2 separate regions of the Homo sapiens genome follow, and region 1 is linked to region 2. Evidence: fine-mapped expression QTL. Tissue or cell type: whole blood. Region 2 holds a variant in brackets; the other region holds the start of a gene. All regions are shown on one strand. Distances are between the middles of the regions.

Region 1 (8,000 bases), 220 kb after region 2:
TCCAGTGACTTTTTCTTTTTTAAAGACAGGGTCTTTCTCTGTTGCCCAGGCTGGAGTATAGTGGTACGATCATAGCTTACTGTAACCTTGAGCTCATGGGCTCAAGTGATCCTCCTGTTGCAGCCTCCCAACTAGGCCTATAGACATGCATCACCATGCCCTGTTAATTTTTAAATTTTTTTGAAGAGATGGGGTTGACCAGGCTGGTCTTGAACTCCTGGGCTCAAGCAATCCTCCTACCTCAGCCTCCCAAAGCGCTGCGATTATACGCCTCCACAGACTTTTCAATTCCACCTATAGGAAAGTCCCATGGGAATTGGAATTTAGCTATAACATGTCGTTTCTTGTACCAGTTATTAAATAATGTCTTTCAGCTCTATTCTCCCTTCCCACCTCTAGACACTGCTTCTGATGCCAGGGCTGAGACTCTAAAAAACATATTTCTCATTGGCAAATAAAGAAGATCTGATCTAATATTCCCTATTAGACTAAGCTGATAGGTTGATAGAGGGAGACCACAGGGCCACTTCCTGTGAGCATCACCCCAGCTAGGCTTCTTCAACAAGGCAGCAGCACATTCTTCCCACAGAAGCTGAATCCAGTTTAAGTTTTTCCAAGACTTGCAGAACCAGCCTCAGTATGCCTTCTCCTTAGAGATCTGGGTGAGAGTCTCCCAGTGCCCTCTTTAGAGGGCTTACTCCCAGCTCCACAGCCACCCCTCATCCATAGTGTGTGTCTAAGTCCCGTAGGGACCCTCCTCAGAGGTCTGAGTCCCATCCCCATGGGATCTCTCCTCTGGGCTCAATGACCCCAGCCCCAGCTGGTCAACACACCTCCTCAGAGATCTGAATTCCAGCTCTGCAAGCCCTTCCTTTAAGCTGTAATAATTCCAGCTTCTCTTTCATCTTTGAGCTCTAGGGGTGGTAGCTGTGTCCTATGTTTGTAACTCCATATCTTGGGATTTTCTTTTTATTATTTTAAATTTACTTCCTGTTAACTATTGTTTATATTCAGTTCCCTTTGTTTAAATAACTGATGCACTTTCTCTCTCTTCTGTGGTTTGAAGGTTTGTGTCCCCTTCAAAATTAATGTTGAAACTTAATCCCGGGCCAGGCGCGGTGGCTCACACCTGTAATCCCAGCACTTTGGAAGGCCGAGGTGGATGGATCACCTGAGGCCAGGAGTTTGAGACCAGCCTGGTCAACATGGTGAGACCCTGTCTCTACTAAAAATGAAAAATTAGCCAGGTGCGGTGGCGTGCGCCTGTAGTCCCAGCTACTTGGGAGGCTGAGGCAGGAGAATGGCTGGAACCTGAGAGGCAGAGGTTGCAGTGAGCAGAGATCGTGCCACTGCACACCAGCCTGGGCGACAGAGCGAGACTCTTGTCTCAAAAAAAAAAAAAAAAAAAAAAGAATTGAAAGGTTTTTTTAGGGTTACTTAGCAAGTTACCTACAAGTGGTGAGAATATTAAAGTCCCTTTCAAGTCAGAACATTTAATTTTTTTACAAGTATATTAACAACTTTATTTCCTGTTAACTACAACTATCACTTATATTCACTTCTGTCTATTCAAATAACTGTTGTGCTTTCTGTCTCTTCTATGGTTTGAAGAGACAGAAAGATTTGTGTCTCCTCTAAAATTAATGTTGAAACTTAATCCCCACTTGAGGTCCCGACGTATTAACAATCCTGTCACTTTGCTTAACTATGATTTTCTTAAATTCTTTCTTTTAGGGTATAAAATTTTAGTTTTAATCCCCAAAAAGCCCTGGGGAAGGTGATTTAGGGAGTGATGGTATTAATTACTAAAAAATTTATATAATGTTTGGGGTAAAGGGTACTTGGAGTCACAGGCATCATTGCCAAAATAAAGAGATTTGGGAAATGTAGTACTAACCACAGCAAAACCCAGCTCTATATTTAGCGGATGAGGCCACATGGATTTTAGAAAGGGCGGGCTGCAGAGGTCTTGGCTAATACTGGAAAAGAGATTTAATTTGAAAGTGAACAGTCTGTTCTATTCCTTAACATATTTTTGGCTACTAGATGGTCAAGCCATTGCGCAAATAATTGCACCATCCTTGTCTTATTCAAGGTGGGCCGTTCATTTCTTAAAATTACCAGTGAGCAACATGGGAAGCAGCAGAGACGGCTATCGATTACCCCGTAGGGAGTGCCTGTGCTGAATGCCAAGGGCTTCCCTTTCCTGACAGACATCTTTTATGCAGCTGAATCATCTGTATGCAAAACATCAGCCAACGGTGCCTCGGAAAAACAACTGGCTGCTGGGCAAACCAGGTGTGGGCTCCAGCTTCCACCTGCTACTACTGTCGTGCAGCCACGGGCACTCTGGGTGATCCTCACTGGCCTGGGGCTGGTCATCTGCTGCTAGATGACCTTCGCTGACTCTCTACATTGATATTCCGACACAGTGTTCTCTAGAAACCGCATGAGCCAGGAAAGGTGTTTCCTAAAGGAGCAGGGGCCGAGCCTCACGCCGAAACACGTCTGTAACACGTACAGTCACGCGTCCCATGCATCCATGCATTCTGAGACATGCGTCTCGGTTGTGGGATCATCACAAGGTAACTTACACAAACTCAGATGGCACAGCCACTACACAACTAGGCAGCTGATGCGGTCCGCTGCTGCTAGGCCGCAAACCCGCACCGCGTGTGAGGTGCGTTATTCCCCTGGCACGGTAATGACATACCTGTACGTGTATCTCCAAATACAGGAGAGGAAATGTCCTTAGCTAAGCCCTCACCAGAGGACAGGAAGTTTCCAGCTCCGTTATCATGTTATGGGACCACCGTCATATACACGGTCCTCCTCAGACCAAAAGGTCGTTCGTTATACGGCACATGTGGTTCTTCCAAGACCCTTTTCCATCTTTCTGTCACATCCGTGCCTGAGTAAAAAGTGGCCCTGAACTCAACCGTCCAGAGTTGGCGGCAGAACTAGCACCACTGGCCCGCTCCACATGTGGAAGGCGCTGGGCAAGGGCCGCCGCAGACCCCATCAGGATTAATCCCCCGAAAACCTTTCACTCGGGTAGCTGGCACACACCGCGTCAGGGCAGAGGGCGCGCGGGACTACTTTCCGCGGACCCTCGGAGCGGGCGGAGGGATCCGCGCAGGCGGGACGGGGCAGAGGCGGGGGCAGGGGCGGGGGCAGGGGCGGGGGCAGGGGCGGGGCAGAGGCGGGGCAGGGGCGGGGCAGGGGCGGGGGAAGGGGCGGGGAAAGGGGGTGCGGGCCGGGGCGCGGTCAGGGAGGAGGGCGGGGGCCAGGACCGGGAGCTCGGGGCACTGCGCCTGCGCCGTCGCCACCGGTCAGCCCGCGCGAGGGGTCGGCGTTCATTCCTGCCGCTGCCGCCGCCGCCGCCGAGGTCCCGCACCAGCCATGGCGCAGATCCTCCCTGTTCGCTTTCAGGAGCACTTCCAGGTGAGGCCCGGCGGGCTGGGGGGCTGCCCTGTCAGCCGCGCCTCCGCCGGGCCGGACTGCCAGGCTTGACCCCGCGCCCCCAGCCCCGCTGAGCCGCTGCCCAGCTGGCCGCGCCGATTTCCGACCTCCCACCTGGGCTGGGGCTGCGGCGTCCCGGGCGCGGCGGCCGCTCCTGAGGACCCGCTTGGGTGCCGTCGCCGAAGCCCGTTACCGGCGGGGCCGGCTGGGGAATGGTGGGGGTGGAAGCCAACGCCCCCTGGGACGCCCCGCTCAGTGCCCGCGAGGAGGCACACAAATTCCCGCTGCAGGCAGGGCAACCCAAGGGCCGCGCGGATCCCACAGCTCCACGCCCCTCCTTGGCGTCCTGCGGTCCTTATTCGCCCCTGAGTTTGCCTCTGTGATCGGTTTTCGTCCCCAGGGCGGCTTCGCCTGGGAGGACCGTGAACATGCGTGACCCAAGAGAAAAATTTCTCAGGGCCAAGCCTAAATAGGGCTTTTCAATGCAGTAACACCCCCAAAGCCTGCCTTTTTAATAAGGTCCCAGTTTGTTCTCCATTTGTTTGTGTTCAGAAACATAAGGACTGGCCCCCTGCTTTGAGCAAAGGCTCAGGTCGGGCGTCGTGCGGGCCGCTCGCGGGTCTGCCCGGGAGCGGTGCTGGTCCCCACGTTTACCCTGGGAGGTGCGGCAGAGGAGGGATAGCCAGCGGCTCCTCCCTGAGTGCTCTGTGTTAAATCATCACACTACCATTCGTTGCGATTCGCTTACTCTTTTCTAGATGAGGAAACCGAGTCTCAAAAGTGTTAAAGAACTCATCTTCATTCAATAAGAACAGGATTCAGACTCAAGTCTTTTTGACCACAAAGTAGTACATCGAGGAACGTGCTTGCTTGAAAGTTCCTATTTTCACAGTGCAGAGCACTGTTAGCCCTAGATGCAGACGGGAAAAGCCTTGGGAACTGTGTAGTGCAGTCCAGTCCCCTCATTCTGCAGACTGGAAACTTGATATCCAGGGGATCCTGCCAGGGTCACTTGGTTAGTGACACAGTGGAAGTTGTATGGAGGTGGGAGTGCCCTGACATCTGTCCGGGCTTCATTCTGCCACTAAGCTAAGCCAGCACCAGTCATGTTGAGGTAGCAAAATACTGCTGCTGCTCATAATAATGATGATGATGTAGTTATCATTTACTGAGCCGTTTCTCTTGCCACTCACTAGACTACTGTATTTTATAAATCTGGTTTAATTTAATCCTCATGATAACTGAGGCAGATAGTGATATCCTGTTTTCTACCATGGGTCACTGAGGTTAATATTCTAATTCCTTCAGCAAAAGTTACATGGCTAGTAAGTGACAAAGCTTGAGTTCTAACCCAGGTCTGATTCCAATGCCTGTGCTTAACCACTATCTAAATATGTTCTTTTCAAAGGGCAAGAAAGCAACAAGATATTTTAGGTGTCCATCAGAGTTTCTAATGTCCATCAGGATTTGTAATGTCCATCAGAGTTGATATGTTCCATTATCTGGAAAATGCTTGTGGCTTGTGGTGGGCAGCCACGTGAATGCAAGTCTGGTTTGTGGTCTCTAACACTGACTGGGTCTTTGAGGCTGCTGTGCATTCTGTAGAGCAAACACTGAGTCAGCACACACTGCCTTCACTACAGACATTTCGAGACTTCAGCCTGTTCCTTAAATCCCTGATCCTGCCACTCCTGCCTTGCAACCAGCAGATGACTTGGAGAAAACTGAAGCCATAACTGGGATGTTTCTCACCTATATGGCTGCAGACTTAGATGTTTGTCTGCAGCCACCCTTTCCTGCCTTCCTGTTACCTCAAAAGTAGGTGTCCTTTCTTGTCTATGTTCTGGATCTGGTATCCTTCTTCCCTATAAGGGAGCCTCGTTCAGTCATAGCCTCCCTTTCCTGTATTTTCATCCTTCTGTCTTGTTGTTTCTTCCTGTTTGTGTTGGGCAATGCTCACCTCTCTTCCATCTGTACAACCAGCAAACTTCTTCCCCCGCTCTTGTCCCCACGAAGCTCTTGTCTCATAGCTGGATGTCATGAAAGAGCTGCTTTAGTGCTTCATTATTTTTATGTTCCACAGTAACCTGCAGTCTGGCTTTTGTCCCCATTTTTTCCCCTGAATCTGTTTTTGCCAAGGTTACAAGCCATCCTGCAGGCTTTTTTGTAAGGGCCACATTCTGTCTCTGTCCCATATTCTTACATTTTTTAACCTTCTAAAAATATGAAAAAGACTTTTAGTTTAGCCATACAAAAGCAGGCTGCAGTTGGCTAATCTTTGCTGTAAAAAATAAAATCAGGCCGAGCATGGTGGCTCACACCTGTAATCCCACCACTTTGGGAGGCCGAGGCGGGTGGATCACCTGAGATCAGGAGTTCGAGACCAGCCTGGCCAACATGGTGAAACCTCGTCTCTACTAAAAATACAGTATTAGCCGGGCGTGTTGGTACGCACCTGTAGTCCCAGCTAGTCAGGAGGCTGAGGCGGGAGAATCTCTTGAACCCGGGAGGCAGAGGTTGCAGTGAGCCAAAATCATGTCACTACTCTCCAGCCTGGGTAACAGACCGAGACTCCGTCTCAAAAAATAAGATGCGATGAGCTAGGTGAGATAAAGCCCATCACACCACACGCATCTTCTGTGATGTCCAGCCGCATTTGATGCTGCACTTTACTGCCTCCTGAGGGTCCTTTCTCTACTGTTTTTGGTTCCACAGTTTCCCAGGGTTTCTCCTTCCTCTCTGCCCACACCCACTGCCCCATGGGCGGCTCTTGTGCATGAGCTTGGAATCTGTCTTGAGCCCCTCTGCTTTTTCATTCAGGACATGCTGCTGGTGATGTTATGTATTCCCATAAGCTTGATGTTCCCAAGCCATCCGAGTGTTTTCGCAGTTTCACTGCTGTGTGTGTGTGAGGCAGTAGCAGGTCCTGGTTAAGAGCACAGACTGAGGCCAAACTGAAGGCACTGAATGTGGACTCAGGCACTTACTGGCTGTGTGATTTAGGGCAATGTTTGTAGCTTTTTTGTGCTTCTATATCTTCATCTATAAAATAAGGATAAAAGGTATACTTCTTATCTCACAAGGTAGTTGTGAGGTTTTTGAGTTAATAAATGTAAAGCATTAAACAATAACTGTTACATAATACAGTAGTCCCGATTTACCCATGGGGAATATGTTCTAAGACCCCCAGAGGATGCCTGAAACTGCAGATTGTTCTGAACCCTTTATACACTTTTTTTCCCTATGCATACATATGTATGATAAAGCTGAATTTATGTTAAGCACAGTAAGAGATTAACAATGATAACTAATAATAAAACAGAACAATAATAACAATATGCCAGCATCACTACTGTTGGACTTTGGGGCCATTATTAAGTAAATTAAGGGTTACTTGAACACAAACTCTGTGATGCTGCAACAGTCAACCTGGTAACTGACCGCTACTAAGTGACTAATGGGCTGGCAATGTCTACAGCGTGGATATGCTGGGCAGAGGAGGGATAATTCACGTCCTGGGTGGGCTGGTGCAAGATTTCATCACTCTGCAGAATGGTATGCAATTTAAAACTTATGAATTGTTTATTTCTGGGGTCTTACATTTAATATTTTCAGACTATAGGTAACAGTGTGAAAAAAACCACGGATAAGAAGGGACTACTGTAAAGCACTGTGTCCTTGTGAGCTGTTGCTGCCATTGTGACAGCTGCCTACTGAAGAAGGCCAGGAAATGGTCAGCAGGTTCCTCAAACACAGTGTTCATAAATGGGGTTCCCTTTCTCCCCAGATGTGTATCTTGTCCAGTGTCCAGCCAGGAGCCTGGGATGTGTTTTCCCCATCCTGTTGTCCCTTTCTCCTGTTTACTTTTGGCATCGTTCTGCCACTGTCATCATGACTACCGTTTCCCTAAACTATGCCATCCCTCCCCACCTTGATGGTCATGCTAGCTTTGTCCTTCTACTTCTAGTCTTGCCCTCCTGTGATCCATTCTCCAGCACACAGGCAACATGATCTCCAAGGATGAGCATCTGCTTAAAGTCCTTCAGGGAGTGGTTTCGTGTTTCCTCTGGCATGAAAAGACTGATCCCCACGTGCTCTTTCCTGTTCTTCCCAGCCCAACACCTGCTCAACTCTGCTGCCGCTCCCTTTGTGTCCTTGCCAAAACACATTCTCCTCTCACCCCTCTTTACTCACTGACTCCTACTGAGCCTTCTGGTATCTGTGGAAATGACGCTGTCTCTGGAAGCTCTCCCTGATTTGTCAGTTAGGAGTTCTTCCTCTGTGCCTCTTTGGGGTTCCTCTTATAATGACACTCTTCCCAGGGTACTGTAGCTGTTCATTTTCTCTGCTGGATTGTGAGCTCAGGGAGCTACCATTTGAACTTTTTAGAAATATTCAAATGTGAGAGTTGGAAGGGTATTGCTGTTTGTAATATCTGAGGATGGGCTGAGCACTTAAGACATCTTGATTCAGAAGAGGAATGGCTGAATAGTTTGGTGACATAAAAATTTTCTTGAGCCCTAAGTAATTCCCCCCAG
Region 2 (8,000 bases):
TTAAGTTCAAATGTGGTTGTTAGGGTGGGCTCTAATCCAATCTGTCTGGTGTCCTTGGAAGATGAAACGGTTTGGACACAGACACCAAGGAGGTATGCAGAGGAAAGACCACGTGAGGACACAGTGAGAAGGTGGTCATCTGTGTGAGCCAAGGAGAGAGGCCTGAGGAGAAGCCAGCCCTGCCCCACCTTGACCTGGGCCTTCTCGCCTCTAGGACTGGGAGGAGACACGTGGTTGAAGCCACCCTGTCTGTGGCACTTTGTTATGGCAGCTTTAGCAAACTAACCCGGGGTGAAATATCAATACGTCTGTTTTACTTTAAAACCTGTCAACAATAATAAGAACGCCAACACAGCCGAATGTGAACCATGTTCCGTGCTGGTGCTGGGGAAGCAGTGGGCAGGCAGGCCTATCCATTCTGGGCTCATCTGACACACAGGTGGGGCCGGTGTCCCAGCCATCTCACAGGTAGCACCTATCACGACACACACCCCGGCCTGTGGAGAGGTGGCTGGCGCAGCAAGGGTTGGTGTCCTGGGTCATCACGGGCCCTGCTGTTCCCTCACCCCATGAAACAGAAACAACCCAACCCTGACAGGTGAGATCGGGGCACACGGGCCCTGGTGGCCAGTCCCCTAGGCTTGCTGGGAAAGTGATCCTTAGCACTGGCTGTAAGGCCGCTGTAAGGCCACAGCCAGGCCAGTCATTCCCTGGAAAACACTTTTTCCCTCTCAGGGGCCTGAGGTTCACCAGAGCTCCCTGAGCCACCAGGAGTAGCCTGTCCCAGGGCCAGATCTGGAAGGTCAAGAGGGCTGCTGGCCAGGCTCCTCCAGCCATGCCAACTTGCTTGGTTCCAGGGCCTGCAATAGCCTCAAAGGGTCAGGTGGGAAAGTGTGGCAGAGTGGCAGGAGACTCTCACCTGAGAGGTCAAAATGGTTGTGCAGCATCCGGGAGCTGGTGCTTTCCGCTGCCTTCTCAAACGCCCTCCCAAAAAAGCTGCTGACACACAAGACATGTCGGGGGCCAGGCGGCCTGCAATGGACCCTTCCCACCCCCCGCCCCAGGACAGACACTAGAGGCAAATACCACTCTACTCAGCAGGGCTAATAAGCTGATAACCCCAACACCCCCGACCCTCCAGTCCCAGGACGAGTGGAAGCTGCTCACTTCTTCCTGTCCGAGCTGTCGGTCTCTGGGGGGATGCCCACCACGGTCACTGTGCCATGCTCCATGCTCAGGGGGGCAGCCATCACCAGGGGCAGCAGTTTGCAGCGCCGGTTCTTTGTCTATGGAGTCGGAGAGCACCCTCCGTCAGGGTATGGTGGGCCCCAGCTCAACACTCAGAGCCCAGAGCCCAACAGCGCCCAGTCACTCCACTCCCCAAAGCCTCCAGGGACGCTGTCACCAGGAGACGCCTTGGTCCCCACCCAGCCACCCCAAGTTAGATGCCCAAGGCCAGTGTCTAACTCCCAGTCCAGGGAGCTCTCCAAACACCTGCCCTCCCGTACCCACAGCATGGTACTGTGGCTGTGATGCTGTGTCCCCGAGCCTCCTTGTCTACCAGCCTAGCCCCACTGCCCCTTGGCTGTTTGTTGCAAGGAGCCTGCCCTGCTATCCTCTCCCTCACCTCCTTCAGGTCCTGCAGCAGCTGCCACCTTCTCCAGGAGGCCCCAGCCCACCCCGCCTCATCCTGCTCCATCCCCTGGCAGCACATCCCCTCATCTTAACCGCAGCTGCCACTCCTCGTCCCCCCCGCCGGCACGCTCCTTCAGGATAAAGGTTTAGGGTTTCCTTCTCTGCTGTGCCTGCTGCACCCACACCCTACAGCCCAGGTGACCAGTATTCCTGGTGTGTCTAGGACTGAGGGGTGTCCCAGGATGTGCACCAGGATGGGCAGTCACTCCACAACAGGGCCGGGCAGGTGGTGGATGTTCAATACATGTCTGGTAAATGAATGGATCCTGTAAAGTGGGTATGTGTTCACCCATTTCACGGATGAGGAAACTGAGGATCAGGTCAGATCATCTACCTCACGTCACACAACTGGCAAATGAGGAGGCTCATCTTTGAACACAGCCTAGAGGACGTCAAGGCCCATGCTCTGTCCCTAGTTTATCTTTGACATTACCTGGTTGATAGAACACATGTCATCTGTCATCATTTTACTGGTTAGTTCAGCGGCAAAAGAAAAGTTCAACTTCCTGTTAGCACATTTTGTTTGAAATAGCCCCCGGCATAAACTCTCATCCTCGAAGCAGAGGAGGACTTCAATTATTGACATGTCACATCTGGGAGGAGCCCCATGTCGGCTAGGTGAGGACCCCTGCCCTAAAGCCAGCCAAGTTAGGAGTGTGTTCCACGCCAACGCAAAGAGGGGGTTAGGCCACACAGAAGACAAAGCCAGGCACAGGAAATCAGCTTAGTGGACAAGCTGTTGCTGGGAAGCCAGTCGGTGCTACAACCATCCCGCTTTCCCTGACCTGCAACAATAGGACACAAGCCCCAGCCCTGTTCACTCTGCAAGGGCCCCTCCCTACTTGTCTGAGTGACTTAGACAGCCAGTGATGAATCAGAGCTTGAGAGAACTGGAAGGTTCCTAGGGGTCAGCTGAGAAAAAGACAGCTCAGAAAAAGTAATGGATGTGCCTAGACCTTGCAGCTGGTCAACAGCCACAGGCACCCCAAGGCCAGCATCTAACTCCCCATCCAGGGAGCTCTCCAAGCACCTGCCCTCCTGTACCCACAGCACCCGCCTGGCCCCTCACCGAACACACAAAGGACTTGAGCAGGTGTTTGCTGAGCAGGCTTAGGGATGCCGGCCTAGAGAACAGCATGACATCTGGAGTGCCCTGCGGAGGCGAGACAGATGGTCAGACGAAGCCACTGGTGCTGTGACCAGGCGCCTGTGCTCTGTGGGAAGCCTGACCTCCATGAGAGAGCAGTACAGGAAAGGCCCCTGGGAGATGACGAGGTTGGTGCAAAGGCAGCTGGCAATGGTCTGCTGGGTGGCTCGCAGCTGCTTCTTGGCGAGTTCCAGGCCATGGTACAGCTTGTCCAGGTTACTCCTGTAACAGGGCAGACACATGGCTTTGGTGGTGCTTGTCAGGAACTCTTGGTAAAATACCAAAGTCACAAATAGTTTGCTTGGTTCCTGGTTCAGGAAGAGGTTTGGGGGTAAGAATTTATCTTCTTTCCCTCCTGAGTTGTCTTTCACATGAAAGGAAAGAATTTTTTAAAATGTATAAACCCACAGTAATGCAAATGAGAGGTGGAGCGGGTGCAAGTATCAGAAGACAGGAAACTAAAAGCCAACAAAGGGAAGATCCTGAAGGCCCAGGAGGACTCTGACACAGGGGAGGCTTGGGCAAGGGCTGGAGGTTGGACAAGGGATCCCCTCAAACCCAACAGATAGATTTTTACTCTTCCCCACAAAAAGGGAGGCTCCCCTCTGAGTATATGAAATGTACCATCTGTGAATAAGTAGAATCCTCAAGCAAAGCCTCTGGGCCCTACAGTGGGGAGTCCCAAAGTGTCACAGTTGGCTCCTGCCTGCTAAGGTGAAACGATGTCTTATGACCAGTGAGCTGTGCCCAGATACCCATGGCCCAGC[C/T]AAGGGTCCACAATCCCGTTCTTGAATATGAAAGACATCAGACCATTTGAGAAATGCCTATGGCCTAAAAAAATAACCCTGAAGAAACAGATAATTTGGAGAACTAAAGAAAGTTAAACTGAACTCTAATTAGTATCTTCAGAGAGATGTGTGCAACTCTTACATTCCTAAACCAAGAACAGGATGCTATGAAAAAGGAAGAGTTAAAAACTAGGAAATGTTGATGGAAATTAAAACAGTTGCAAAAGATAAAACATCCACTCCAAGTCTGGAGTCAAGAAAAACTTCCTCAACATAGATAACAAGACAAAGCTATGGAAAATGTAAGGCAAAAAAATAAGACAGAGCATCGTCATTCCAGGAAGCCTGAAAAGCAAGAATAAAAAACACGGATGTTTTCTGTGGGGGGAATAGTAAAGAAATAGTAAAATAAAGATATTGTCAGATATATAAGAACTCAGAAAGTTTATCTCACATGCGCCCTTTCTTTGAATGTTACTTAAGAACTGTGCTCTAATTTAATGAGGGAGTAAATGAAACAAAGATGAAGATCCCAAGAAACATTGGACTAAACTAAGAGGCACAGCCAAGATTTGGACATCCATGGGGACAGTGGAAAGCAGGTCTAGAGAGCTGTAGGTCCAGGCTGTGGTGGGAAGACAGAACCCCAGACTCTCCAGCAAAAAGGGGCTCACAGAAAAACAGCTGGAAGGAGTTTGGAGGAGAAAAAAATGGATGTGATAAAGGAGGCAATTAAAAACAGCAGGAAAAACAAAGAGCCGTGCCAGATAGTAATCTATTACTACACATGATTGTCTCTGGAATAGTTTATTAGCACAATAAAGTAAAACTATTTGTTTACTTTCAACTTTTAAAATCAACCTGTAACCAAAGATAAGACAATTTATATCTTTTTCTCTAACCCAAGATTGTTATCAGTCTTGAAAACGTAAAAGCACAAATTTCAGAAAGTACTGAGCAGCACTGAAGAGCAAAGTAAGGCTGTTTCTACACCTTGGACATTTGTCCCCTCAAAACCTCATGTTGAAATCTGATCCAAGATCTTCGAGGTGGGGTCTAGTGGGAAGTGTTGGGTCATGGGTGCAGACCCCTCATGAATAGATGAATGCTCTCCCTGGGGCTAGGGGGTGTAAGTGAGTTCTTACTCTATTAGTTCCCGTGACGGTTGTTAAAAAGAGCCTAGTACCTTCCTCCTCTCTCTTCCTTCCTCCATTGCCACATGGTCTCTGCACCCACCAGCTCCCCTTCTGCCATGAGTGGAAGCAGCCTGAGGCCCTCACCAGATGCAGATGCCCAATCTTGAGCATTCCAGCCATCAGAATTATGAGGCAAATAAACCTTTTCTCTTTATAAATTACTCAGCCTCAGGTATTCCTTTATAGCAACACAAAATGGACTAAGAGTGTTTTAAATATCCTTTTCTTACAAAGTAGGGAGACGAGATACTAGTGATGAAAGAAGACATAAATATGTTAAAGTTACAAAGAAGTTAAAAATAGTGGCAAAACTGTACCAACAGGAGGGAAGGTGGACAAGAGTGGGATAAATGCTCCTTTGTCATAGCAGGAAGTTGGTAGACAATGTCTAAAGCCTACCCATCAATGCTGGGATGATGGCAGCAACAGTGGTAAAATAGTTTTTGGATTTTCCCAAATTTCTAGATAAAAGTAGAGCAACTAGATTGCAAAACCAAAAACCTAGGACCCACATTTGCAACAAATTAAGAGAACAAGGGAACACTTCAAACCCCAAAGTGTAAGCAGGTAAAAAGAGACCATGAACAGCCAGACAGGTATACTATCTACATCAGTGCGAGAGAAAGCCAAGAGGTAGTGAGACCTAAGAAGACTTAAAACTCCAGGCAACTGGAGAGCAGCGGCCCAAACTGAGAGTTTTGCCCTATGCAAGAGCAGGTGAGTGCAGTGGGCCAAGGGAAAGTTTAAGGAGCCTCCCTGGAGTGCAAGGAGTCCTGGTAATGAGCAAGGGGTCCTGTTAAACAGCAAGGGAGCCTGGTAAAGTATAAGGGGGCATGGTAAAGAGCAAGGGGCCTTGCTGAAGTGTAAGGAGACTATAGTAAAGAGTAAGGGGCCCAGCCTGACCAACATGTCTCTACAAAAAATACAAAAATTAGCCAGGTGCAGTGGCACATGCCTGTAGTCCCAGCTACCTGGGAGGCAGAGGTTGCAGTGAGTGGAAATCATGCCACTGCATGCCAGCTTAAGTGACAGAGTAAGACCCTGTCTCAAAAAAAAAAAAAAAAAAAACCTCCAGTGAATCATACTCCTAATGTAAGGGCTAAAACTATTAAAGTGTTAGTAGAAAAAATAATGTGAAATCTTCATGACCTTGGGTTAGGCAATGGTTTCTTAGATATGACACCAAAAGCACAAGAAACAAAAGAAAAAGTAGGTAACTTAAATGTCATCAAAATTAACAAATCTTATACTTCACAGGACACTGCCAAAGTGAAAAGTCAGCCTACAGAATGGGAGAAAATACTTGCAAATTACTTATCTGATAAGGGATTTGTATGTAGAATATATAAAAGTTTTAGGCTGGGCACGGTGGTTCATACCTATAATCCCAGTGCTTTGGGAGGCCAAGGCTGGAAGACTGCTTGAGCCCAGGAGTTTGAGACCAGCCTGAGCAACATGGTAAGATCTCATCTCTACTAAAAATTTAAAAATTAGCAGGTGTGGTAGCTCATGCCTGTAATCCCACCTATTCAGGAGGCTGAGGTGGGAGGATGGCTTGAGCCAAGGAGTTTGAGGCTGCAGTGAGCCATGACTGCACCACTGCACTCCAGCTTGAGCAACAGAGTGACACCCTGTCTCAAAAAAAAAAAAAAAAAAAGACAAAGGACTTGAATAGACAATTCTCCTAACAAGATACACAAATGACCAATAAGCACATGAGAAGATGCTCAACACTATTAGTCATCAGTAAAATGCAAATCAAAACCATAACGAGATACCACTTCATACTCACTAGGATGAATGTAATCCAAAAGATGGACAATAACAAGTGTCGGTGAGGATGTGAAGAAATTGAAACCCTCCCTCCTGGTGGGAATGTAAAATGGTGCAGCTGCTGTGGAAAAGTCTGGCAGTTCCTCAAAAATCTGGCAGTTCCTTGAAACCTAGTGTTACCATGTCACCCAGCATTTCCACATGTAGGTATATAACCAAAAGAAACAAAGACATGACTACACAAAAACTTGTACATGCAAGTTCACAGCAGCATTAGTCATAATTGTCAATAGGTGGAAACAAACCACATGCCCATCAACTTATGAATGGATAAATGAAATAGAATATATCCATCCAATGGAATATTATTTATAATAAAAAGACACTGGCCGGGCATGGTGGCTGATGCCTGTAATCCCAGCACTTTGGGAGGCCGAGGCAGGTGGATCAAGAGGTCAGGAGTTCAAGACCAGCCTGAACAACACGGTGAAACCCCGTCTCTATTAAAACTACAAAAATTAGCCAGGCTTGGTGGCATGCGTTTGTAATCCCAGCTACTCGGTAGGCTGAGGCAGGAGAATTGCTTGAACCCAGGAGGCGAAGGTTGCAGTGAGCCGAGAGCGTGCCACTGGACTACAGCCTGAGCGAGAGTGAGACTCTGTCTCAGGTGGCGGACGAGGGAAAAGACATATAATCCCGATACATCCTACAATATAGATGAGCCTTGCAAATATGATGCTAAGTGAAGAACCCGGTCACAAAGAACCATATCTTATATGATCCCATTTGTATGAAATGCTCAGAACAGCCAATTCATAAAGACAAAAGGGAGACTGGTGGTTGCCAGAGGCTGGGAGGATCTCTCTGGGGCAACAAAAATGCTCTAAAATTAGATAGTGGTGATTGCTGCACAACCTTGCAAAACCTAACTGCAACCTACTAAAAGTCATTGCAGGCTGGGCACAGTGGCTCATGCCTGTTCCTCCCAGCACTTTGGGAGGCTGAGGTGAAAGGATTGCTTGAGCCTAGGAATTTGAGACCAGTCTGGGCCACATAGTGATACATCTTTACAAAAATTTTTAAAATTAGCAAGGCGTGGTGGCATGCACCTGTTGTCCCAGCTACTCAAGAGGCTGAGGTAGGAAGATTGCTTGAGACTGGGAGGTCAAGGCTGCTGTGAGCTATGATCATGCCATTGCATTCCACCCTGGGCAACAGAGCGAGACCCTGTCTCTAAAAAAATAACAATAAAATAAATAAAAGCCATCACATTGTACATTTTAAATGGGTGAATTGTATGGCATGCAAATTGTATCTCAATAAAGCAGTGGAAAAAAAAGTGTGCTTGGGAGCAGAACCAGGAAATCCCAGAAAGCAGGCCCCCATATATACATATGCATC

Evidence for each region. PIP is the estimated chance that this variant, and not a neighbour inherited with it, causes the effect.
Region 1: CLTCL1 starts here. The variant in region 2 is fine-mapped to the expression of CLTCL1 in whole blood (TOPMed, PIP 0.98).

What each region holds. Positions count from the first base shown.
Region 1 is chr22:19,287,044-19,295,043 of GRCh38, reverse strand. CLTCL1 (clathrin heavy chain like 1) reads left to right here and starts at 3,325. Exons shown (of 33, transcript NM_007098.4): 1 at 3,325-3,444. The coding sequence starts at 3,403. LOC105372859 (a long non-coding RNA gene) reads right to left here and starts at 3,097. Exons shown (of 6, transcript XR_938002.3): 1 at 2,714-3,097. RefSeq lists silencers at 3,207-3,446, 3,328-3,512 and an enhancer at 3,623-4,136.
Region 2 is chr22:19,509,813-19,517,812 of GRCh38, reverse strand. It overlaps CDC45 (cell division cycle 45), which reads right to left. Exons shown (of 19, transcript NM_003504.5): 14 at 2,926-3,064; 15 at 2,765-2,848; 16 at 1,168-1,286; 17 at 920-996. Among named protein-coding and RNA genes, the nearest start is that of CLDN5, 11 kb to the left of the region's middle. RefSeq lists enhancers at 2,329-2,829, 2,830-3,330. The variant C/T (reference allele first, on the strand shown) is at 3,610.